Linked DNA regions of Homo sapiens. The protein of the gene in region 6 purifies or fractionates together with the protein of the main gene of each other region. This does not show direct contact. Each region holds a gene or a part of one and is shown on either strand. Other genes may lie near its edges.

Region 1 (3,500 bases), on a different chromosome or scaffold from region 6:
TGTTGTACTTGAAGTAGAGGTCTGATACTGTAGTAGTCCATTTTCACACTGTTATAAGGACATACCTGAGTAATGTATAGATAAAGGAAATAGGCTTAATTGACTCACATTTCCACATCGCCGGGGAGGCCTCAGGAAGCTTAAAATCATGGCGGAAGATCTCTCTGCACAGGGTGGCAGGAGAGAGAATGAGTGCTGAGCAAAGGAAGAAGCCCCTAATAAACCATCAGATCTCCCCCTGAGAACGAACTCACTGTTGTGAGAACAACATGAGGGAAACGGCCCGGGGATTTAATTATCTCCACCTCGTCCTGCCCTTGACACGTGGGGAATATTACAATTCAAGGTGAAATTGGGGTGGGAACACAGAGCCAAACCATCTAAAATATTTTAAGAAGACAGGATTACGATTCTCCTCGGGCATGTTTGTATTTTTAGCAGTGATGCATGTATGTGCTGCTTCACACAATCACCTGGAAACATTTGTTTCTAAAACCTTGTGTTTAGAAGCGCAGAGACGGGATAAGAAATGCTTTTAAGATGAAGAAGTTCCTGTCCAGGAGGAACGTTTCAGCATGTGTCTATAGGGAAGAGGTGTGCTCTTAAGGCACCTCCATGTGGGCATTTTCTTCTGCAGGCTCCAACAAACTAGGAGAAACCATACGATGTCAATAAGGCTTGCTAGTTTTTTATTATTCTCTGCAAACTACAGTTACACTTGGATTTGATCAGCCCTTTTAACATTTCATAGCTGCTTTTCCACCTTGTTTAACAATGTGTCTGGGTATATGACAAGGTAATTACCAAACTCTTAGAATCTGCAGGTTGTCTGTAGTTGAAGAATGAAGGTGAATTGCTCTCTGCCAACAGCCAGCTATGTTTTTGTTTGCTTTAATTTTCTGAACACACAGCTGAAGGGTATGAACAAAACATTGTAGATCTGGGTTTCTAATATTTGGCTTTTTCCATTATCAATGATGGTTTCTCTATATTTTATTTTGAGACAGGGTCTCACTCTGTCACCCAGGCTGGAGTGCAGTGATGTCATGACGGTTCACTGCAGCCTTGACCTCCTAGGCTCAAGTGATCCTCCCACCTCAGCCTCCTGAGTAGCTCGGACTACAGGTGCATGCCACCACGCCTGGCTAATTTTTTTTATTTTTTTGTAGAGATGGAGTTTCACCTTGTTGCCCAGGCTGGTCTTGCATTCCAGGGCTCAAGCAATCTTCCTGCCTTGGTTTCCCAAAGTGCTGGGATTACAGACATGAGCCACCATTCCTGGCCAATGCCAGTTTCTTGGCAGCTGTATTCTCTAAACATTTATTTATTCAAATTCATCTGTCAGTTTTAGGGTACTAAATCTCTCAGCAAGCAAGTAAAGCAGAAGCTTTCCAGGACTTCTGGTAATTTTCTGTATTGCTCAAGATGCAGGAATAGATCATGTAATATTCTTCCCAATCCTCTGGTACATAGTGAAATATAATTTAGGAAAACGTTTTTTGAAATTACATTTTCTAGAAGGAAAGTTATGTATAGGACCATAGCTTGGGCCAGTTTCATTTTTTTCTTACTTTCCATAGACTCAGAACAATGAGAAATTATCCTAAAGCATTCTTATAGAAGCATTGTTTTGACAACCAATTGTTCAGAGTGCACCTTATTATCATTCTATTTATGTGCTGTTTACTTATATTTTTTTTTGAGACAAGGTCTCTGTTGCCCAGGTTGGAGTGCAGTGGCATGATCTCAGCTCACTGCAACCTCCACCTCCTGGGCTCAGGTGATCCTCCCACCTCAGCGTCCCAGGTAGCTGGGATTACATGCCCCCATCACCATACCCAGCTATTTTTTCTATTTTTTGTACAGTTGGGGTTTTGCCATGTTGGACAGGCTAGTCTTGAACTCCTGACCTCAAGTGATCCGCCCACCTTGGTCTCCCAAAGTGCTGGTGTTACAGGCATGAGCCACTGCACCTCGCCTGTTACGTGCTTTTTAATGTCTAGATTGAGGATGGTTTGTCATAGATGTTGTATATATTTACAGAGTCCTTACCACTTGAGAATTTTTAATATGCAAAGATGACAGTGGTCCTTTTAACTTATCCTCTAAAAAGCCCAAATAGGATTTTTTCTTAAAAGACACAAGCTAAATTTGAAGTAAGTAACTAAAAATTAAATATACCTCTCATTTTGTTTGATGTTAAAATCTACAAAGATTTAATAAACATTTTTTGGTTCATAAAAAGATGATGCTGTTCCTAAAGCTGTATAAGAAACATAATTTAAAAACATTTCTTGTAGAAACAGGGCCTCGCTTTGTTGCCCAGGCTGTTCTCTGTACCCAGAGGAAATAAACATTTATCTGTTAGTTTCTGTTTGTATTTAAATATTTCAGAGTTCCTAAATGTTTCTTTACATGAGATCAACAGCCTTCACAATTATAAATACTGTAGAATTTTAATCTTGTAATAGTACGTTTACATTTTGACTATCAGAAATTTGACGAAAAAGACATATAAGGCTATATTTGTTCAAAGTATATCTAGACTGCTTATCTATATTTGAAAATGAAAATTCAGCTCTTTACAATAAGTCTAAATGGCATGTGGTGTTCATATTGATGTCTTAGTGATTTGGTAAGGCAATAACTTACATGATCGTACTAGCTTTGAGACAGACAAGTTCAGGAAGACCAGATACTATATGAGCTGGCATTTGGCTGTTTGCAAGTAGAGGTTACAGTGGCACAGCAGATATTTGCCCAATACTATAGCAAATGCCAAATTTGCATGTAACCTACTATTTCGCCTCTAATGAGTCCAAAAGATTATTTAAAACAATTCTTTTTAAAATTGCCTTATGAATATGATTTTCTTTTGGCTTTATATTTTTGAACACATTAAATGTCGAGGAGGGAACTGGGCTATATGAGATAGAATCAAAGCGCTGGGGACCTTTGGAGGGTGGCCGTGGACAGATTCAGCCAGTTTCGTCTTCATTATTTGGTAGAAAATGCTTTTCAGGTATATTTTGTAATATTTTGACTTGAGCAGTGTCGGGCTTTTAAGTCCTGAGTTTGTTTCCATCAAAAAATCAGAGTTTAAAAGCAGTCAAATGTGTTTGTGTTTTCCAGACATTCCAGTTTTATTTTCATGGTTTTCACTCTAGCTACAATTTGACGCATGGAAACATTGTGAGCCTGCATTGTTAAATTGAGTGTATTACTGCATCTCAGGTTTAGTGAGAATTGCTGAAACTACACTAAGATTTATGGCCGTGTGACGTGGTACACTTGGTTTGGCATTGGATTGAGCATGGTGCTGCATGACATCAGTGTGCTCATTTGTACGGTGCAGATGCCTGTATAGGTGCAGGCCAAGTTTCAAAGCACATCCTGGGTGGGGTACAGTGGCTCATGCCTGTAATCCCAACACTTTGGGAGACTGATGCGGCCGGATCACTCGAGGCCAGGAGTTCGAGACCAAGCTGGCCAACACGGCA
Region 2 (3,500 bases), on a different chromosome or scaffold from region 6:
TTCAGAAGGATATAACTCACCATCCTCCCTGTGTATTCACTATAGATCTTGGGGGTTAGCAGCGGGGCCATTTACTGTTGTGCAGGCCTGTGGGATTCCAGCCGGAGAAGAGTCAGGCTTCCCACACCAGCAAGTTATACAAATAATTAACATTCAGCAAGTGCCCACTCTGCACTAGGCACATCTCCAAGCACTTTACACTGATTTTCTCATTTATCACAACAGTCCATCAAGATATCTTATTATTATTCCCATTTTACTGGTGTGGGAGCAGAGACACAAAAACACGAAGTCACTTGGCCAAAGTGACTTTCAGTGAGTGGAGGAGTCAGTACTCAGACGCAGGCAAGATCATCCAAAATTCGCCTCTTCTTTTTTTAGAGAAAGGATCTTGCTTTGTCACCCAGGCTGCAGTGTGGTGACTCAATCATGGCTCACACAAACCTTGAACCCCTGGGCTCAAACGACCCTACCACCTCAGCCACCCCAAGTAGGTAGGACTACAGGTGCACACTTCCATGCCTAGCCTATTTTTGTATTCTTTATAGAGACAGGGTCTCATCATATTGCCCAAGCTGGTCTCCAACTCCTGGATTCAAGGACTCTTCCCACCTCAGCCTCCTACAGTGTTGAGATTACAGGCACAAGTCACTGCACCCAGCCCAAAACCTGCCTCTTGACCACCAGTCTGTTCCATGTATTTCTAATATGAGCAACAGCTCTTAGTCATGCATTCCCACCATCCACCCACCCAAAAGGAGAGCAGCCAATCTGGGGTCCCAAGTTTAATGGAGGAAGAGAATTTACCCAGAATAGTTTGTTCATATTCACACAGTGGTTTTAAAAACAAAAAAATTGATTCTGCTCCAGAATATTCTAGGTGCATTTTCTGACCTTCTTTTTCTATTGCAGATTAAGAAATGGGGCCAGGGGAGGGAAGGGGGGTGTGATTTCTTTTCAGGTTATTTTTTAATATTTATTTTTAAACAAATTCCATTATTTGGAGGCTTCTGGTGTTTAGACTTCAAATCTACTAATCTTAGTCCATAATTCACTCATGGGACAGTCCCTAAACATTTTTCCAGAGACAGTTCTGAGACAGGGTTTGTTTAAAACTCTGTGACAAGGTGAGAAAAGATCTATAAGTCAGAGAAACAAGACTCCATCATCTCTACAAAAAAATTTTTTAAATTATTAGGTGCGCGTGGTGGCACATGCCAATAGTGCCAGCTACTCAGGAGGCTTGAGGTGGGAGGACTGCTTGAGTCCAGGAGTTTAAGGCTGCAGAGAGCTATGATTGAGCCACTGCCCTCCAGCCTGGGTTACAGTGAGACACTGTCTCTAAAAAATAACAAAATTTGGGGTCAAGTGTGGTGGTTCACACCTGTAATCCCAGCAGGAGGATCGCTTGAGGCCAGAAGTTTGAGACCAGCCTAAGCAGTATAGCAAGACCCAGTCTCTACAAAAAAAAAAAAAAAAATGGAAAAGGAAAAATAAATTAGCCAGGCCTGGTGATGCATACTCATAGTCCCAGTTACTCAGGAGGCTGAGGCAGGAGGATCACTTGAGCCCAGGAGCTGGAGGCTGCAGTGAGCTATGATTGCACCACTGCACTCCAGCCTGAGTAGCAGAGTGAGACCTTGTCTCAAAAAATACCATTTTTTAATTTAAAATTTAAAAATTTTAAAAATTAAAAGTCCAGACAACTGCAGGGCTTTGGGCGATCCCTTTTCTTTCAGAGCCATTTCCTCCTCAGTGATATGGAACTATGCATCCTCAGGCAGTATGCAGGTGGCACAGGGCTGTGTGTCTGTAAGCACTTAATAAAACAAGTTCAAATGTAGGACACGAGCTCTCCTCTCTGCCCCCTCCTCTTCTCTAGGACACGGAAGTTTCCAATCAGATCACCCTCGTGGAAGACGTCTTAGCCAAGCTCTGTAAAACCATTTACCCGCTGGCCGACCTCCTGGCCAGGCCACTCCCGGAGGGGGTCGATCCTCTGAAGCTTGAGATCTATCTCACCGACGAAGACTTCGAGGTAAGCGGTTCTTCCGGTGGGGTGGGGATGGGAGTAAAACAACACACGCACGCCCGGCTCCTTTCACTGAGCCGCGGGGCGCTTCTCCCAATGTTTCCAGTTTGCACTAGACATGACGAGGGATGAATACAACGCCCTGCCCGCCTGGAAGCAGGTGAACCTGAAGAAAGCAAAAGGCCTGTTCTGAGTGGGGAGACGCCAGAGGAGCCTCACGGTCACGTCCAACAACACCACTGCACCAGGGAAATGGATATATATTTTTGGACTGGTGTTTTTCACAAAGTATTTTTCAATCAGAGTTTTCAGAACCTGACATTGTTAAAGATACTGCTTGTCCCGGAGTTGTGTATTTTGTAAATGTTCAAGGGAACTGTTTGGAAACTTCTTTCCACCATTCAGGAGGTTATCAGAATTAATAAAAGTATCTGTTATGTGCACTTAAGCCGCAGCTGCTATAGATAGCACTGCCTTCTTGTTCCAGCTAGGCAATGCCTTTTTTTTTTTTTTTTGAAGCAGTTCTCTTTATAAAGTGTTATTTTGATAGTTTGTGGATTCTAAAATATATATATATTTATATAAACACCATATAAGTCAAATATGTATTTAACAAAGCAATATGTATTCATTCACTTTCAAGATTTGTTTTGGTGTCAAAATAACATGAAAAGGTAGATGGAGTTGCTTCTGTTGAATTAGCTCTGCCACCAATATGTATCTTCATACACGTTTGGAAATGTTTCCTGCAGCATTAGGTATGACTTGTTCTGAGTACTGCTTCCGGTGCTAAAATGAACAAAGAATTTGTACTTAATGGCATGGACTCTGGAGAATCTATGCGAATCAACCTTTCTACCTTAATATCTCCCCAAAAATGTATAGTGCCTTGTTTTTATGTACAGTTTATATACAGAAAAGTTTGCTCTGCATTTTTGATGATGGTTTGGAACATTATCTACAATTTTACTCTCAAATAGTCAAAATAAAAACATCTCAATTTCTAATACCGGTTGTAAACAGTACACATGTCATTTTGTGATATAGGACTCCCAAATAAAAGTATCAGAATAAACACAACAATTAACTGGTTCACATTGAATTCCAAGCATGTTCCTTTCTGGAATTTTTTTTTTTTTTGGTAAATATTAACATAGCACCAAATTTTGTAATTAAGTATAAATGACTATACATTTGAATTTAGTTTAGGGCAAGATTTTATACAAGGTCATAAGATTAAATACAGAGTTATTTGCCCCATAAAATTAGTACTCAGTACTATAATGAAGACATACTTTTGCAAATCATCATTCAGCAGAAGTTCTTTATCCCACAGCTATATCTATCTACAATTTCAATTTTAGGATCTCAATGCCCTTTAAAAAATTGTATGGGCCAGGCGAGGTGGCCCACACCTGTAATCCCGGCACTCTGGGAGGCTGAGGCAGGCGGATCACCTGAGACCAGG
Region 3 (3,500 bases), on a different chromosome or scaffold from region 6:
TGTAATCCCAGCTACTCGGGAGGCTGAGGCAGGAGAATCGCTTGAACCAGGGAGGCGGAGGTTGCAGTGAACCGAGGTTGTGCCACTGCACTCCAGCCTGGGTGACAGAGCGAGGTTCCGTCTCAAAAAAAAAAAAAAAAGAGATTGGATTGGAGGCAGGGAGGGCTGGAGTCTTCCACACAGGAGGTGGTGTGAGCTGTGCCAGGGCTGAGGTGGGTGGAGGGAGTGAGGAGAGGGAGGGATTGTTGAGGCAGTGGGGAGCTATAGTGAGTCTCAGGGATGACTCCCCCCAGCTCACGCTGGTGGGATGGACAGGTGGTGGGTATCCATCTGAGAGATGGAGAGCCCTCTGCAAATCCAGCATGTCCTGGTTCCAGGTGGGGCCGGGGTGGTGAGGAGCTGGGCTGGTGGGCGGCCTCGGTGACAGAGCCTCGCCGCCCCAGCGGGGCAGCTGGCTGGGACCTCGTCGGTGGAGATGTACCGCCAGGCACTACTATGGGGCTGCCGCTGCGTGGAGCTGGACGTGTGGAAGGGACGGCCGCCTGAGGAGGAACCCTTCATTACCCACGGCTTCACCATGACCACAGAGGTGCCTCTGCGCGACGTGCTGGAGGCCATTGCCGAGACTGCCTTCAAGACCTCGCCCTACCCCGTCATCCTCTCCTTCGAGAACCATGTGGACTCGTGAGTGAGCCCCTGGCATGAAACCCCATGGACCGGGGGACAGTCTTCCAGCTTCAGTGCTGTTGGACTGCTCAGGGACCTCCAACCCTGCGAACGGCCACTGACATGTCCCGTAGACCTCAGCTTCCTCTCTGGGGGAGGGATCTCTGACCTCTGACCTCGGTTCCGCAGGGCAAAGCAACAGGCAAAGATGGCTGAGTACTGCCGCTCCATCTTTGGAGACGCGCTACTCATCGAGCCTCTGGACAAGTACCCGGTACGGGAGCTCGGAGCGAGGGGGGTGGCATGGGGGCCAGGGTGCTGCGGACCCGGTCCAGGGCCCTGACTCGTCCATGCCTGCCCAGCTGGCCCCAGGCGTTCCCCTGCCCAGCCCCCAGGACCTGATGGGCCGTATCCTGGTGAAGAACAAGAAGCGGCACCGACCCAGCGCAGGTGGCCCAGACAGCGCCGGGCGCAAGCGGCCCCTGGAGCAGAGCAATTCTGCCCTGAGCGAGAGCTCCGCGGCCACCGAGCCCTCCTCCCCGCAGCTGGGTAGGCCCCAGCCCGGCCCGCCACCCTGACTTGACCCTAGCCTCTGGCCTCATGCTCCAGGCGCCGTGACACTTCATCCCAGACCCCCAGCCCACCCTCCTGCCTCGCTGTGCGCCTGTTCCCACAACCGGCCTGTCTCCTCACCACCTGTCGGCTGGTGTGGGGCCTCTGACCCCTGACCTCAGGTGCACGTCTCACCCAGCTGCACCCCAACTCCTGACTCCCAACCTCAGCCTCTCACCTCTCAGAGCCTTCCCACAACCCGGTGATGGCTCTGAAGGCTGACCTCTGACCTCAGTAAACCACATCCCACACTGGGTGTGACCTCAGACCCCTAAGCCCGCATTGAGTTCACCTGCCCAGTTGGTTATCATTTCAGCTGACCTCTGACCTCTCACCCCTGACTGTTCACCTCACTATGCCCCCTCCTTAGACATGGCTCTGACTTACCCCTGACCTGTAACCTCTCTATGTCATCCCTTACCCCGCTATTAGGGCTGTGGTATGCTACTTCCTGACTTCTCACCCCACTGAACCACCCTATCTGCCTCCCTGCTGAATATCACTGCAGACCTTTACCTTTGACCTATGACCCCTCTCAACCCATACTGGGTTAATACCATCTGACCTCGACCTCTTGGCCTCTCCCCAAGCCACACTGCCCTGAGAGTACCCCTTGAATTCCCCACTGAGTCACCTCGGCACACACTGGGAAAAACCCCTCCAGACTTCCTAAGCAGCTGTGTGGTCCTGACCCCTCACCCTGTGGCCCTGTCCTCTGCAGGGTCTCCCAGCTCTGACAGCTGCCCAGGCCTGAGCAATGGGGAGGAGGTAGGGCTTGAGAAGCCCAGCCTGGAGCCTCAGAAGTCTCTGGGTGACGAGGGCCTGAACCGAGGCCCCTATGTTCTTGGACCTGCTGACCGTGAGGATGAGGAGGAAGATGAGGAAGAGGAGGAACAGACAGACCCCAAAAAGCCAACTACAGATGAGGTCAGGCCCACAGGGTGGGCAGGTCGGGGAGGTAGCATCTATTTACCTCCCAGGGGGCTGGGTCTGACCATCAACAAGACTGACATCACCCCTGCCTCCTGGGGCTCAGTGTGGGTGTGAGTGAAGGTGGGAGGAGGGCTCTTCAGTCATCAGGCATGGAAACAAGCATACAGTTCTGCTGGTGATGTGGCCTGGGAGGTGCGAGTTAGGGTACAGAACTGGCAGAGGATAGGGAGTCTACCCTGGGCAGGGAGGTGGGGCAGGGAGACCTCAGGAAGGGGGACAGCATGTACAAAGGTCCTGGGGCAGGGCCAGGGGGTGCAGGAGCGGGGAGCATTGTCATGGGGAGCATTGAGTAGCTGTGAGGAATGGTACAGAAAAAATCAGTCTGAGCTGGGCGTGGTGGCTCACACCTGTGATCCCAGCTACTCGGGAGGCTGAGGCATGAGAATCCCTTGAACCTGGGAGGTGGAGGTTGCAGTGAGCTGAGATTGCACCATTGCACTCCAACGTGGGCTAAAAAGGGAGACACTATCTCAAAAAAAAAAAAAAAAAAAAAAGACATCATTGCTATAAAGACAATTACTGGAGCAATTAGTGAAATTTAAAGATGGACTACATATTAGATAATATGTTAATGTTTTGTTTCCTGAATTTAATTATTGTATTGGAGTTATAGAAGAGAATGTCCATATATGCTGAAGTATTTATGGGTAAAGGGTCATGATGTCTATAATTTACTCCCAAATGATTCAGTAAAAGTAATGATAATTATAACACCTATATGGGCCAGGCGAGGTGGCTCATGCCTGTAATCCCAGCACTTTGGGAGGCTGAGGTGGGCGAGTCACCTGAGGTTGGGAGGTTCCAGACCAGCCTGGCCAACATGGTGAAACCCCATCTCTACTAAAAATACATAAATTAGCCGGGCAAGGTGGCGGGCGCCTGTAATCCCAGCTACTTGGGAGGCTGAGGCAGGAAAATTGCTTGAGCTGGGTGGTGTCCAGGGCGCATCAGTGAGACCCCGGGGAGAAGACTGTCGGCACCACCAGCAGTGTGTATATAGTGCTGGGAAGAGGGTCAGCACCTCCTTCATGGGGGGCAGGTGAGGGAATGGCCAGCTGTGGCGGGAATGGCACTGCTGACCCTGGGTTGGGGCCCACAGGGCACAGCCAGCAGCGAGGTGAATGCCACTGAGGAGATGTCCACGCTTGTCAACTACATCGAACCTGTCAAGTTCAAGTCCTTTGAGGCTGCTCGAAGTGAGTGGGGGTGGGTGGCAGGCATGGGAGCTT
Region 4 (3,500 bases), on a different chromosome or scaffold from region 6:
AGCCTTTCTGGGGCCAGAACATGCCCCAGCATCTTACTGCCATTAAAACCCTTTATGGTAATGAAAATCTGTAGGCCTTCCCTGTGGGGATCCTTAAGAAGCATGAGCACTTGCTTTCACTGCTTAATTCATTTTATAATTGTGTGTTTTAGTTTTTTGAATTTATATTTGGATAATACATTCCCTGTTAAACATACATATTTGGGTAACCAATCTCCTATTAACATATATTCTACCTGATTATATAACAATAGAAGGGATCATAAGTAATAATTTTTGACCGTTTACTATGTTAGGCACTGTGCTGAGCACATTTTCTGCATTATCTAGTTTAATTTTCTCAACCACTCTATGAGAGAGCAACTCTCATTATTCACATTTTACAGCCATGGAAACTGAGGCACAATGAGATTTAGGGGACTTGCCCAAGATTGTGTAGTTGTATCATTATTACTCCAAGTCAGGGCTTAAGCCTGATGTAGGGTCAACTGTGAAGTGCAGGCATGTCACAAAGACTTTGGATTATTCATTATGGGTAGTCACACATTGATGTTTGCAGGGCAGTGAGGTATTGTCTCACTCTCTTGCATCACCATAAGCTCCCTGCTGTGGAAGAGAAGGCGTGGGCACACACAGCTAGCTACAGGAAGTCCCATCAAACCTGGGACATGCCCACAGAAGCATGGCTCACCTGGGAGCATCACCTGTCCTGCCTATCATGGTGGACAATATCTGAGAACTGCTGCTTAAGGAAAAGTGGGATGTGTGGAGCATCACTTATGTTCCTGATGCCCCCCACCCCAAAGTCAGTCAGGCCTTGATTTTCTACCTACTGTCCTCTCATAAAAAGCTCCAACTCCCAGTGTCTCTTTTGATCTGTGGCCTAAATCTCTCTGCAAGTACACCAGCACCACCTGCCAAGCCCATTATCTGTCTGTCCGGGCTCTGTGCTGGGTGGGCCCTGCTCACTTACAGCCCTCCCAGAGGCAGGATCACACCCCGGTCTCCTGATCTTACAGCCACTACTCTTACTGAAACAGCACTGTGGTGTTATGCATAGTACACCTTTTAAAAAATGATGCATTAGTTAGGCCAGATGTGGTGGTTCATGCCTGTAATCCCAGGGCTTAGGAAGGCCGAGGTGGGTGGATCATGAGGTCAGGAGTTCAAGACCAGCCTAGCCAATATGGTGAAACCCTGTCTTTACTAAAAATACAAAAATTAGCCAGGTGTGGTGGCATGCGCCTGTAGTCCCAGCTACTCGGGAGGCTGAGGCAGAAGAATTGCTTGAACCCGGGAGGTGGAGGTTGCATTGAGCCGAGATCACACCACTGCACTCCAGCCTTGGTGACAGAGAAAGACTCTGTCTCAAAAAAAAAAAGTAAAAAAAATTAAAAAGATTCCTTAAACAGTAGTATTCCCTCCCAAGCTGTATCCCTCTATGTGCCAGGCATACAGTGATCTTCATATCCCTGATAACAGTCCCCTCACAGAGGCAGCTTTCAGAAAAGGATATGGAGTTTGTGACAGTGACTGAAGATATGCATTTTAATGGTACAAAGATTGAAAGTGGGGCTGGGAACGGTAATCCCAGCACTTTGGGAGGCCAAGGCAGGCAGATCACTTGAGTTTGGGAGTTCGAGATCAGCCTGGCCAATATGGTGAAACACTGTCTCTATTAAAAATACAAAAAATTAGCCGGGCGTGGTGTCAGGCACCTGTAATCCCAGCCACTCAGGAGGCTGAGGCAGGAGAATCGCTTGAACCTGGGAGGCAGAGGTTGCAGTGAGCCGAGATTGCGCCACTGCATTCCAGCCTGGGTGCAACAGAGCGAGAGTCCATCTCAAAAAAAAAAAAAAAAAGGTTGGAGGTGGAATGACTCTTCAGTTTAGTCAGTTTGAGGGTGCATATCTTTTGGGTGATGTTCTGCCCATACCAGCCACCCATGTATTCCTCTAGCTCTGCAAATGCAGGGAACAGGGAGCACACAACGATTAGAAATGGTCATCCTCCTCTCGTAAATCTGAAGAAGAACGCTGGTTTTTGTTCTAGATCTGTCCTGAAATTCCTTGGGCAAATCTTTCCTTGCTCTGTGCCTCAGTTCCCCTAATGGGAGAGTGTGTGCACTGATGATCTCTAAGCATCCTTGCAGCTATAAACTTCTTTGACTCCCTAAGGTACTGGGGGCTGAGTTAAAGTGAAGCCCATGAGGATAACTCCAATCCCCCCAATAGGAATCTGCTTTAGCAGTAAGCCCACACCTAGAAGCCTGCTTATGTTTGAAGAAGAGAAGGGAACAATTGGTTGATGTTATGTTTCTTGAGATACCCATCTCCAGGGGCGACGTTCAAAATATTTAACCACCAGTGTGTTGTGAGCACAGACCCGTCAGGAGGTTAGAAGGCAGCGGGTAGGGCCAGCAGGGACTGTGGCCAGAGAGCATGCCCCGTCCTCCTCTTAGCTCTGCAGGGCACTGCTCACCTCGCTGCTTTCCTGGGCCTTTCTCCAGCTTTTTTTTTGGTCTGCCTCTTCCTGCCTGATTCTCCATCCAGGGCCCCAGCTTAACCCTCTTTTGGCTTCTTCTCTCTCCGGAGCCACCTGATACTCAACTCAACTCCTGTGAATATCTTTATGCATCCAAACAACAACTCAATCATATTCATCACTCAGCAGATGCTCTTTCAGTGCCCTCTGTGCTCAGACTGGAGTCGGCTGCCTTGACCCCTCACCTCCTCTCCTTCAAAAATGTTAGAGGCAGGGATGGGCTGGAGGATTGAGACCTGAGTCCTAGCCTCTCTCTGCCCCTTGTCTGCCTTTGACCTTGGACAAGTCCCTCCCTGTCCTGGGGTTTCAGATTCCTTACTTGTAAAACGAGGAACACCATGGATTCCATGAGCTCTGAGGTCCCTTCTGTTCGATGATGAGTTTCTGGAGAAGTGCAAGTCTTCAGCAGCTGACCACTCTCTCTTTCTCTCTCTCTCTTTCTCTCTCTCCTGCCCCCCCACAACCTCCAATGTAGAATGCACTGCTGCCTGCAGGCCTGAGGCAGAAGGATCAGACCACCAAGGCGCCCACGGGCCCCTTTAAAAGAGAGGAGCTCTTGGATCACTTGGAAAAGCAAGCAAAGGAGTTTAAGGACCGAGAAGATCTGGTCCCCTACACAGGGGAAAAACGAGGTACTGAACAATGTTACTGTTATAATATGCCACTCCCCATGCACCATTGAGTGCCGACTGTATGCCAGGCCCTGCCAGGCCCTGTGTTGGGCCAAATGTGACTGGGCCTCCTTGTCCTCATCCCTGCCTGGCCAAAACACCCAAACCCAACTTCAAAAGCATCTATGGATGATGTAGATTTCATGAAGTTTTGGGGGTAGACTGAGGAAAGACTCCTATCCACTCAAATCAGCAAAACTTTTCCCTAAACCCTCTTTCACTAGGATGTCCTGATTATTTTTTTACGCAAACCTAAACAGTTTTGAGAGTAAAAGAAGAAACTGT
Region 5 (3,500 bases), on a different chromosome or scaffold from region 6:
GGCTTATTTGGGTCAGAGAGGTGAGATCAACAGGAGGTTGATCTGGTACTGAGACTTAAGGTAATAATGTGAAAGTGTTATCAGGGCAAGCTTTAGCCTCAGCACTATTGATATTTTGAGCCAGATAAGTCTTTGTTGGGGGGAGGAGTAGACCGTGTTCTACACCATAGGGTGTTAAACAGTGTCCCTGGCCTTTACCCACAAGATGCCAGTAGCACCCCCTACTCTATTTGTGACAACCCAAAATGTCTCCAGACATTGCAATTCACTCCCAGTTGAGAGCCACTGACTTACAGCATAGACCAAAGGCACAAAAAGATCAGATCATGCTTCTCCGTGAGCTGGGCACAGTGGCACGCACTTATAGTCCTAGTTACTTGGGAGGCTGAGGTGGGAGGATTGCTTGAGCCTCAGAGTTAAGAGCCAACCTGGGCAACATAGCAAGACCCCATCCTTTAAAAAAAAAAGAGGGAGTTGAAAGTACAGAAAAGAAAGGAAAAGTAAGCATCCCCTGTGGATTCCTCTTTCTAGGCATGATCAAGCAGTTCCTCCGAGATGTGGACTGGGGAGAGGTCGACTACCTCATTGTGGACACCCCACCTGGGACGTCGGATGAACACCTCTCGGTCGTCCGGTACCTGGCCACAGCACACATCGATGGAGCAGTGATCATCACCACTCCCCAGGTGAGCGAGCTGCCAGCTGGAGCTGGGTCCAAACTGTGCTCCACACTGTGAGATTTCTTTCCTACCTGGCTCTGATACTCTGGTCTCACCAAGGCTCTTCCCAGTGTGTGTTCCGCAGCTGCATCTGATGTGGGTCTGCAGAAACCTCGTGTTAAAAACTTCAGCCAGCACAGTGATTCACACCTGTAATCCCAGGACTTTGGGAGGCTGAGATGGGAGGATCACTTGAGCCCACGAGTTCGGGACCAGCCTGAAAAACATAGCAAAACCCCATCTCTACAAAAAATATTTTAAAATTAGCCAGGCATGGTGGCTCGCGCCTGTAGTTCCAGCTACTTGGGAGGCTGAGGTAGGAGGATCATTTGAGCCTGGGGAAAGGAGGTTGCAGTGAGCCATGATCACGCCAGTGCAGTCCAGCCAGCGCAAGCGAGTGAGGCCTTGTCCCAAAAGATAAAAATAAGAAAAACTTCATCTTTGGTCTAGACATTTGCAGCTGACAACCATTCAACGATTTGGTTTTTTTTTAGTCCATGGATTAAACAATAGTGGGTCAAGAATGCTTTTTGAACTTTCCTTGAGGAAACTAGGGAAACCACCAGTGCAGTTATAATTCATACTGTGCTGCCTGGCCCCGTCAGCCTTGCCGTGTCCATGTGTCAGGTCCCCCAGCCTACAGTGGATTTTCCGTTTACATCCCAGGATGATTTAGGAAATCTCTCCAGTTTTCAACAGAACCAGCTGGGTGCAGATAGGGATTTCGGGATAAGCCACTGGGTGCCTTCGCTTCTTCCGTAGTGACACCCAGCAACCCTCTGTAGCAGTCACCTAGTGGCTGTACTCCAAGGCCCATGGTGAGCCCGAGCTGAGAGGAGAGCGATAGGAAGTTTCCTCTCTGTAAGTCCTGCAGAGAGCAACTGCAGGCAGGACCATGGTGCTATCCATCTCAGGGGCCTGAGAAACTGAGGGCTCTTCTCCATCTCCACAGTTACGCCTGACTTCTCTTCATGACGTTCTCCTCCACACTTAAGAAAGCCCAGCAAAGGAGGTTTGATTTGATCTCACTGGCCAGAATCAGTCAGGACGACCCATAGTCTCACCTCATCCAGCACTCACTGAGCTCTGACTCTGACATGCCGGGCACCAGGGCAGTAAAAAGGCCTGGCTCTCCCTGGTGGCCCCTGTGGCTCCCTGAGGAACACAGGTGCTGGACACAGGGATGAGGGTACAGCCAATGGAGTGGCAGGCCCAGCGGCCATGGGAAGGGTGTCCGGGTCAGAAAATGGTGCAAGATTCATGTCCACCCTGGCATCCTGCAGAGAGGGGACATGGGGACGCAAGGAGGAGCAGGACACCAGCTGGGACCCTGGACAGGAGGGAGGATGGCCTGGCCCGGGTGATGGCAGTGGAGAGAAAGTGTATTTGTCCTTAGGAATGTTTTCTGTCCCATTTTTAAAAAGTGGTTGGTGCTGGGCACACTGGCTCATGTCTGTAATCCCAGCACTTTGGGAGGCCGAGGCAGGCAGATTACTTGAGGTCAGGAGTTCGAGACCAGACTGGCCAATATGGCAAAACCCTGTCTCTACCAAAAAAATACAAAAATTAGCCAGGCGTGGTGGTGGGCACCTGTAATCCCAGCTACTTGGGAGGCTGAGGTGGGAGAAGTGCTTGAATCCAGGAGACAGAGGTTGCAGTGAGCCGAGATCGCGCCACTGCACTCCAGCCTGGGCGACAGAGCAAGACTCTGTCTCAAAAAAAGAAAGAAAGAAATGAGAGACTGAGTCGCAGCCCATTGACTTTCTAGCTGAGCGCCCCTTCCTCCGCATCCCAGCCTCAGTGTCAAGAGCCAAACAGGCATCTCAGGAAAAGAACAGGCCCAAAGCTGCGAGCCTTTCGGGCTCACGTGAGTGGTGAAGCTCCAGGTGCTAAGGAGTCACTACACCTGACAGTGACAAGCCACAGCAGGACTTGGGTACAGGGATCTGTGATAACATTAACTGAGGAAAATAGGGAGCTACTGAGCGGTGTTTATACACAGTAATCACATTGGAAAAACTCAGAGTTGAGAAGGAAATGCAAAGTTGTCCACATTGGGCAGTATTCCTTATTTCCTTTTAGTCAGTTGTTTGTGTTTATAATTATCTAGAGCAGGGATTGGCAAACTTTTCTGTAAAGGGCCAGATAGGAAGTAGGCGTTGCGGACCCCACGGTCCCTGTCCCAGCCCCTTAGCCGTGCCACTGTGGCATGAAGCAGCCACAGACGGTGCCTAGAGGGACGGGCATGGCTGGTTCCGGAGGAACTTTATTTATAAAACCAGCCAGATTCAGCCCCCAGGCTGGGGTTTGCCAAGCTCTGGTCTAGAAAACAGTGCACACACTGGCTTAATATAGTATAGTATAGGGACATGGAGCATGTAGATGCGTTAAAAGGTCATTTTCAGATAGGCACAGTGGCTCACGCCTCTAACCCTAACACTCTGGGAGGCCGAGGCAGGAGGATCACTTCACACCAGAAGCTTAAGACCAGTCTGGGCAACAACCATCTCTATAAAAAATTAAAAAGTTAGCCAGGCAGAGTAGCACATGCCTGTAGTCCCAGCTACTCTGGAGGCTGAGGCAGGAGGATTGCCTGAGCCCAGGAGGTCAAGGCTGCAGTGAGCAATGATTATGCCACTGCACTCCAGACTGGGCAGCAGTGAGATCCTGTCTCTAAAAAAAAAAGTCATTTTCTTTTAGGTTGATTTCTTGCTATTTGGCTGTGTGGGAAGTAAATAGCACCTCGAACAAACAGGGCTTAGCACTAGTAGGTACTAAATA
Region 6 (3,500 bases):
GTGGTGGCTCACACCTGTAATCCCAGCACTTTGGGAGGCCGAGGCGGGCGGATCATGAGGTCAGGAGATCGAGACCATCCTGGCTAACATGGTGAAATCCCGTCTCTACTAAAAACGCAAAAAATTAGCTGGGCGTGGTGGCGGATGCCTGTAGTCCCAGCTACTCGGGAGGCTGAGGCAGGAGAATGGCGTGAACCCGGGAGGCGGAGCTTGCAGTGAGTGGAGATCGCTCCGTTGCACTGTAGCCTGGGCGACACGGAGCGAGACTCCGTCTCAAAAAAACAAAAACAAAAACAAAAAACAAGCTAGGTGCGGTCGCTCACAATCCCGGCACTTTGGGAGGCTGAGGCAGGTGGATCGCCTGAGGTCAGGAGTTTGAGACCAGCCTGGACAACAGTGAAACCTCATCTCTACTAAAAATACAAAAATTAGCTGGGCATGGTGGTGCATGCCTGTAATCCCCACTACTAGGGAGGCTGAGGCAGGAGAATCGCTTGAACCCAGGAGGCGGAGGTCGCAGTGCCATTGCACTCCATTCTGGGCAACAAAAGCGAAACTCCGTCTCAAAAAAAAAAAGGAAGTAAGACTAGGATTCTACTCAACCTTCTCATTTTTATATACCTGTATCTACTTTTCTTCTAAGCCAAACATTTTGGTTCTACTTGCTCACTGTTTCAACCCACACCGTACACATTTCAGTCTCAGAACAAGATGAACACGTGAACCTCGAAAATTTGAGACAGGTCTCGGTTAACTTAGAAAGTTTATTTTGCTAGTGTTGAGAATGTGTGCCTGTGACACAGCCTCCAGAAGTCCTGATTGACATGTGCCCAAGGTGGTTGGGCACAGCTTGGTTTTATACATTTTAAGGAGACATGAGACATCAATCAATATATGCTAGAAGTACATTGGTTCAGTCCAGAACGGCGGGGACAGCTTGAAGCAGGGAGGGAGCTTCCAGGTCACAAGTAGGTGAGAGACAAATGGTTGCCTTCTTTTGAGTTTCTGATAAGCCTTTCCTAAGGAGGCAACCAGATATGCATCTATCTCAGTGAGCAAAGGGATGACTTTGAATAGAGTGGGAGGCAAGGCTGGGCATGGTGGCTCACGTCTGTAATCCCAGCACTTTGGGAGGCCGAGGCAGGTGGATCACCTGAGATCAGGAGTTCGAGGCCAGCCTGGCCAGCATGATGAAACCCTGTCTCTACTAAAAATACAAAAATTAGTCAGGCTTGGTGGTGGATGCCTGTAATCCCAGGTACTCAAGAGGCTGAGGCGGGAGAATCACTTGAACCCAGGAGGCGGAGGTTACAGTGAGTTGAGATCGTGCCATTGCATTCCAGCCTGGGACAGAGTGAGACTCCGTCTCAAAAAAAAAAAAAAATAGGAATCTTAACATAGCATAATATTAAACTTTAATAGAGTTGTTTAATTGTTAATGCTTATTCTGGCCTTTCTACATTGAGGAACCTTGAGTTTAAAGGAATGAGGGGAAGCACATTTAATACAGTTTGCCTTTTGAGCTTAATTTTTCTAGAAGTACCTTTTTAAACAGTTGTTATAACTAATGTGTAACACTGTTTTTGATAACTGTCAGCTTAAACATGTTGAGCATATATTTATTTAATTAATTTATTTTTTTTGAGACAGACTCTTGCTCTGTCACCTAGGCGGGAATATAGTGATGTGATCATAGTTTGCCGCAGCCTTGAACTCCTGGGCTTAAGCCATTCTCCCACCTCTGACTCTGAAGTAGCTAAGACTGCAGGTTCATGCCAACAGGCTTGGCTAATTTTTTTTTTTTTTTGAGATAAGGTTTCAAAAGCCTGAGCTGTGTTGCTCAGGCTGGTCTTGAATTCCTGGTCTCAAGTGATCCTCCTGTCTCAGCCTCTGAATATGCTAGGATAACAGGCATGAGTCACTGCACCTGACCTGTTTCCAGGTTTTTACTGTTATAAGCAGTGCTCCAATTAATATTACATCTCCATATTGGGCACTTATGAGGTACATCTATAAATACATTCTCAGAAATGAAATTGCTATGTCAAAGAATAATTGCACTTTTCATTTGCATAGACATTTCCAAATTACCCTCCTGGCCCCAATTAATATTCTTACATTTCCATCTTTGGGCACCTATGAAGTATATCTATAGATACATTCTCAGAAGTGAGATTGCCATGTCAAAGAGTAATTACACTTTTACTTTCCGTAGATGTTTCCAGATTATCCTCCTAAGAAGTTACGTTGGTTTATACTCCTACCAACTGTGTATTTTCTCCACATAATTAAGTATGGACACTAAAGTAACAATAGTCCCTATCTTACATGGTTATTGTGAGGATTAAATGAAGTAAATGCCAAAAGGTACCTACTAAGCTGTCAGCAAATGACTTATATTATTAATATAATTATTGTTTTTTTCTGAACTTTATTACCAGAAATATTATAAACCTAGACAGTGCTTCATGAGGTTGGGAAAGAGGGTTCATACAATTGATCTGAGCAATATATGCCTCCAAAATACTGTTATCTGTATTAGAACAGACGAGCTCTGCATCTAGGCCTTGGGCCCAGGGAGTCTGGCATCTGGGGCTGACGTTAGGGGACAGAGTCCACAGGTATATCTCAAATTTGCTGGAAAGGGCATGCCTCAGGAATGGGGCGCAGTAGATGTAACTACATGTGTGCCTCTGCAGCCTGGAATGGCAGCTGTGGCTGTTTGCATGGGGAGGAGAAAGTCATCATTTGGGAGGGACCTTTAGAATATCCCATCCCAAACACTTCTCTCCTTCTCTTACTCTGAAGGGCTTAATTTAAATTTGCTTTGTGGATTAACGTATTGAGAATGATTTAGGGAGTTCCTTACCTAAAAAATGTTTTCCCTCATCTGCACACTGTCGCTTGAAATTTATTTCACAGGAGAGGGAGCCGTAACCATAGGCAGTGTGGTATTATGAAAGGAGTACTGGCTCTTCACTATGGGTTTACTGTGGTTTGCTGAGGGTAGTTGAGTGGGTGAGAAAGTCACTTAGCTGCCCCAAGCCTCACTTTTCTCCATCGGAAAATTAAGTAGCCATGTAATACATGAAAGAGAGAATGTTGTGAAAACACTTTGAGAATGCAAAGGCCAAGTGAAAACATATGTCCGTACAAAAGCTTGTGTGTGAATGTTCAGAGCAGCATTATGTTTAACAGACAAAAAGTGAAACACCCCAGATGTCCATCAGCTAATGAGTGGATCAACAAAATGTGGTCTGTTCATACGATGGAATAGTAGTTGGCAATAGAAAGGATTGAAGCACTCATACCTGGTACAACATGGATGAACTCTGAAAACATGCTAAGTGGAAGAAGCCAGACACAAGAGACCATGTGCTTCATGATTTTACTTATGTGAAATGTCTTCAATAGGCAAATCTTTTTGTTTTTTGTTTTTTGTGAGACTGAATCTCACTCTCTTGCCCAGGCTGGAGTGCAGTGGTGCGATCTTGGCTCAC
Region 7 (3,500 bases), on a different chromosome or scaffold from region 6:
ACTGCCCCCAGATGAGAGCTGCAAGGTTCAGGGAATGAGGGGAAGGCCTGAGCTTGACGAGAATTCAGCCTCTTAGCCCCTCACCAAGCCCTGAGGCCTCTGAAGCCCACCTGATGGGGACTGGGCAGCTGGGGCCCAGGACAGTAAGGCCGGCTGTGGGCCGCACTGGTCTTTGGAGCCCCGTCCTTCTGGGTCCTGTGGCCCTGGCTTTGCCCCCAGGGCCCAGCCCGGCCCCCAGGCTGCCCGCTCTAGGCGCCACCTCCCTTTCCAACCCCTGGGTCCTTGCTGCTCCCTGGAGTCTCACCCCAAAGCTGGCACCATGGCCCAGGTCACAGCAGGGTCTGACCAGGGCAGGGAGGACCGTTCCAGGCCCAGCCTCTGGACCTCAGGGCCACAGCCTGCCCTGGAGGGCTGCCCTCCGCCCTGCAGCCCCCAGCCCACCTTGTGGAACAGGGAGGCAAAGACCTCCTGGTGGCTGCTCATGTCGACCCCGCCAGAGACTCGCAGCAGCTCCTCCTCGTCCTCGGCCTTAGCCTCCTCGAAAGCCTCCAGCTGGATCAGCAGGTCGGCATCCTCCAGGTCTCTGTGCAGGAGGGGCCAGGTGGGCTAAGCCTGCTGCTGCCACCACCAACACGCAGGCGGGGCAGCCTGGGTCAGCGCCAGTGTACCAGCCCCGCTCAGCCCACCTGGGACTCTGAGCCAGGCCATAGCCAGCTGTGGCTGACATGTGACCCACATAGCCAGGGATAGCGACCTAAGAGTGGCAGCTCCCAGGTCAGTGCCTTGCGCCCTGCCAGGCTGCCCCCGGGTCACCAGGCACCCGCACGCCCCTGGGGAAGGGGAAGGGCGAGTATGCCCACTCCCATCGAGTAACGTGCACCAAGGCCTGGGGAGGTGGCACACAATGGAACCGGGCCGTGACCTTGGGGGAGGGAAGGCCCTCCCCTGGGCGCTGCGTGACTACAGTGAAGACCACACCTGAGGTGGGTCCACAGGGCTGCATGGATACAGGAGGGGCGGGGCTCTGGCCTGAGCAGGAGGAAACTTAGTGTTCACTGGGCCTAGGACTTGCCAGTCATCTCAGTCTGGTCAATGAGCACAGCCCTCCGCAGGCAGGGCCGGCCCCCTTCAGCCCACACTGGTGGGGCACAGGCACCCATGTGGGCAAACTTTGCTGAGGCCATTTCTGTTTTTTTTTTTTGAGATGGAGTCTCGCTCTGTCACCCATGCTGGAGTGCAGTGGTACGATCTCAGCTCACTACAACTTCTACCTCCTGGGATCCAATGATTGTCCTGCCTCAGCCTCCTGAGTAGTTGGGATTGCAGGCACATGCCACCACGGCCAGCTAATTTTTGTACTTTTAGTAGAGATGGGGTTTCACCATGTTGGCCAAGCTGGTCTCGAACTCCTGACCTCAGGTGATCTGCCCATCTTGGCCTCCCAAAGTGCTGGAATTACAGGCGTGAGCCACCGCGCCTGGCCCCTGAGGCCATTTCAACACCAGGCATTCTAGCCCTGGGCTCCTCCAAGCTGATTTCCCTGGGTGTAAGGACACCCCCCTGAGTACAGTCCTGACTGAGGCCTGGATAGAGCTTCTCAGCTATGTGGGTTCCCAGCAGGGCTGCAAGATTTAGCAAATGAAACTACAGAGTACCTGTTCAATTTGAATTTCAGACAAACAATGAATAACTTTTGGCATAAGTATATCCCATGCAACATCTGGGATATACTTACACCAAAATATCGTCTGTTGTGTATCTGAAACCTGAATGAACTGCATGTCCCATACAGTACCTGGCAACCCTAGTTTCTTTTTTAAAAAATTTTTATTTTAGACTCGGGGGTACATGTGCGTGTTTGCCACATGGTACACTGTGTAACGTAGGCGATTTGCCTTCTAGGGCAGTGGTCCCCAGCCTTTTTGGCACCAGGGACTGGTTTTGTGGAAGACAATTTTTCCATAGACTGGGGTGACGGGAATGGTTTAGGGATAAAACTGTTCCACCCCCGATCATCAGGCATTAGATTGTCATGAGGAGCGCGCAGCCTGGATCCCTTGCGCGCGTGCGTGCGCTGGAGAATCTAATGCAGTGCTGATCTGACATGAGGTGCAGCTCAGGCAGGAATGCCCGCCCACCGCTCACTTCCTGCTGCGTGGCCCGGTTCCAATAGGCCAGGTACCGGTCCGCAGCCTGGCGGTTGGGGACCCTTGTTCTAGTGGGCCTGACACCAAGTAGCGACGAACACTGTACCCTGTAGGTAGTTTTTCAACTCTCGCCCTGGAGCCCGTGTCCCTGTCTCCATCTTGCGTCCACGTGAACCACCCTGTAGTTCCCTCTTATTGGCATTTCATTTTCTGTTTCTGGGTTGGTTCACTTAGGATCACGGCCTCCAGCTCCATCCACGGTGTGCAAAGGATATGAGCTCATTCTGTCCTTTCTATGGCTGCTGCAACCCTAGTTTCTGTGGGCAGCTGCCAGGGACAGTGAGCTGGATTCTAGCCTGAGACCTGGCTTCTGGCTGGACCCCTGGGGTTACTCCGAGGGAGCCACCTCCCTGCCATCTGGAGGTGCTGCTTAGGTGAGGTGGCTGGGAGCCAAAGGGCAGGTGGGCCTGGCCTTGGGAGCAGGAGGGGGAGCCGGCAGGACCGCTACAGTGGGGACTCACCGCAGGCGAGCCAGGACGTCCAGCAGCTGCAGCCCTGGGAAGGGACGGACAGGGTCAGAGGGTTCGGAGGCCACTCCCCGCCTTCCCCATTTCACTTCTGCCACCCAGAGCACCTGACCCTGCCCTGCTGCACTCATGGGACACCAGAGACCTGAGGCTCTGGAGGGGAGACATCATGCTGGACACACAGTGATGCTTACTCAGGGCTCACTGCCAGAACTGGCAGGGCTAGAACGAGGTCTCAGGCCCCCTGTCCGGCTCCACTGCCTGGCCAGTCTCACAAATGAGAACGGTCCAGGGTTGACCCCCAGGCGTTCTGAGGCCTGTGTCCATTGAAGGGGCAGGTGGTGGCAGGCCCGAGATGGCGCCTTCCTCTGGGGCCCTGGGTCGGGGGCAGCTTTTGTGGCGCTCCCACCTCCCCAGGTGGATGCAGCATGGGATGCACTGGCCAAGAGGCGGGCAGGAGCGGGCATGCGGCCCAGGGCAGGTGCTTACCGATAAACTCGTTCCGCAGCTGGGTGCGCGCGCGCAGGTCCTCGGGGCCCAAGATGACGGCGTTGATCACGCTAAGCAGGGTGACCACGTAGGGCACGTTGTCGCTGCCGGAGAGCTCGTTCATGACAATGCTGAAGCGGTACTGCTGGCTGCACACCGTCTGTGGGGAGGGCGGGGTCAGGGCACACCCAGGCAGGGAGCCCCATGTGCCCAGGCCCAGGCCCTGCCGCCCACCTTGTAGTGGTCCAGGGCGTCCAGGGTCAGCACGTGGCCCTCGGGAGAGTAGATGCACAGGGCAGCCAGTAGCTCAAACACCTGCTTCTTCACCATCACGTTG

Evidence for each region.
Region 1: the proteins of ADD1 (region 6) and NSUN2 fractionate together in Homo sapiens (co-fractionation; one large-scale study listed by BioGRID). This does not show direct contact.
Region 2: the proteins of ADD1 (region 6) and SVIL purify together in Homo sapiens (affinity purification with mass spectrometry; one large-scale study listed by BioGRID and IntAct). This does not show direct contact.
Region 3: the proteins of ADD1 (region 6) and PLCB3 fractionate together in Homo sapiens (co-fractionation; one large-scale study listed by BioGRID). This does not show direct contact.
Region 4: the proteins of ADD1 (region 6) and TMOD1 purify together in Homo sapiens (affinity purification with mass spectrometry; one large-scale study listed by BioGRID and IntAct). This does not show direct contact.
Region 5: the proteins of ADD1 (region 6) and NUBP1 fractionate together in Homo sapiens (co-fractionation; one large-scale study listed by BioGRID). This does not show direct contact.
Region 7: the proteins of ADD1 (region 6) and INF2 purify together in Homo sapiens (affinity purification with mass spectrometry; one large-scale study listed by BioGRID and IntAct). This does not show direct contact.

What each region holds. Positions count from the first base shown.
Region 1 is NC_000005.10:6,626,545-6,630,044, reverse strand, and holds part of NSUN2 (RNA cytosine C(5)-methyltransferase NSUN2), read left to right. Parts: intron 1-3,500. UniProt on the Homo sapiens protein: RNA cytosine C(5)-methyltransferase that methylates cytosine to 5-methylcytosine (m5C) in various RNAs, such as tRNAs, mRNAs and some long non-coding RNAs (lncRNAs).
Region 2 is NC_000010.11:29,456,972-29,460,471, reverse strand, and holds the end of SVIL (supervillin), read left to right. Parts: intron 1-1,882; coding exon 1,883-2,038; exon of another isoform or gene 2,039-2,138; coding exon 2,139-2,225; 3' UTR 2,226-3,134; downstream 3,135-3,500.
Region 3 is NC_000011.10:64,258,030-64,261,529, forward strand, and holds part of PLCB3 (1-phosphatidylinositol 4,5-bisphosphate phosphodiesterase beta-3), read left to right. Parts: intron 1-443; coding exon 444-684; intron 685-855; coding exon 856-940; intron 941-1,028; coding exon 1,029-1,215; intron 1,216-1,999; coding exon 2,000-2,205; intron 2,206-3,370; coding exon 3,371-3,467; intron 3,468-3,500. UniProt on the Homo sapiens protein: Catalyzes the production of the second messenger molecules diacylglycerol (DAG) and inositol 1,4,5-trisphosphate (IP3).
Region 4 is NC_000009.12:97,543,166-97,546,665, forward strand, and holds part of TMOD1 (tropomodulin-1), read left to right. Parts: intron 1-3,019; coding exon 3,020-3,176; intron 3,177-3,500. UniProt on the Homo sapiens protein: Blocks the elongation and depolymerization of the actin filaments at the pointed end. The Tmod/TM complex contributes to the formation of the short actin protofilament, which in turn defines the geometry of the membrane skeleton.
Region 5 is NC_000016.10:10,757,342-10,760,841, forward strand, and holds part of NUBP1 (cytosolic Fe-S cluster assembly factor NUBP1), read left to right. Parts: exon of another isoform or gene 1-531; coding exon 532-686; exon of another isoform or gene 687-936; intron 937-3,500. UniProt on the Homo sapiens protein: Component of the cytosolic iron-sulfur (Fe/S) protein assembly (CIA) machinery. Required for maturation of extramitochondrial Fe-S proteins.
Region 6 is NC_000004.12:2,846,844-2,850,343, forward strand, and holds part of ADD1 (alpha-adducin), read left to right. Parts: intron 1-3,500. UniProt on the Homo sapiens protein: Membrane-cytoskeleton-associated protein that promotes the assembly of the spectrin-actin network. Binds to calmodulin.
Region 7 is NC_000014.9:104,703,118-104,706,617, reverse strand, and holds part of INF2 (inverted formin-2), read right to left. Parts: coding exon 3,398-3,500; intron 3,324-3,397; coding exon 3,164-3,323; intron 2,703-3,163; coding exon 2,669-2,702; coding exon of another isoform or gene 2,665-2,668; exon of another isoform or gene 1,809-2,664; intron 584-1,808; coding exon 442-583; intron 1-441.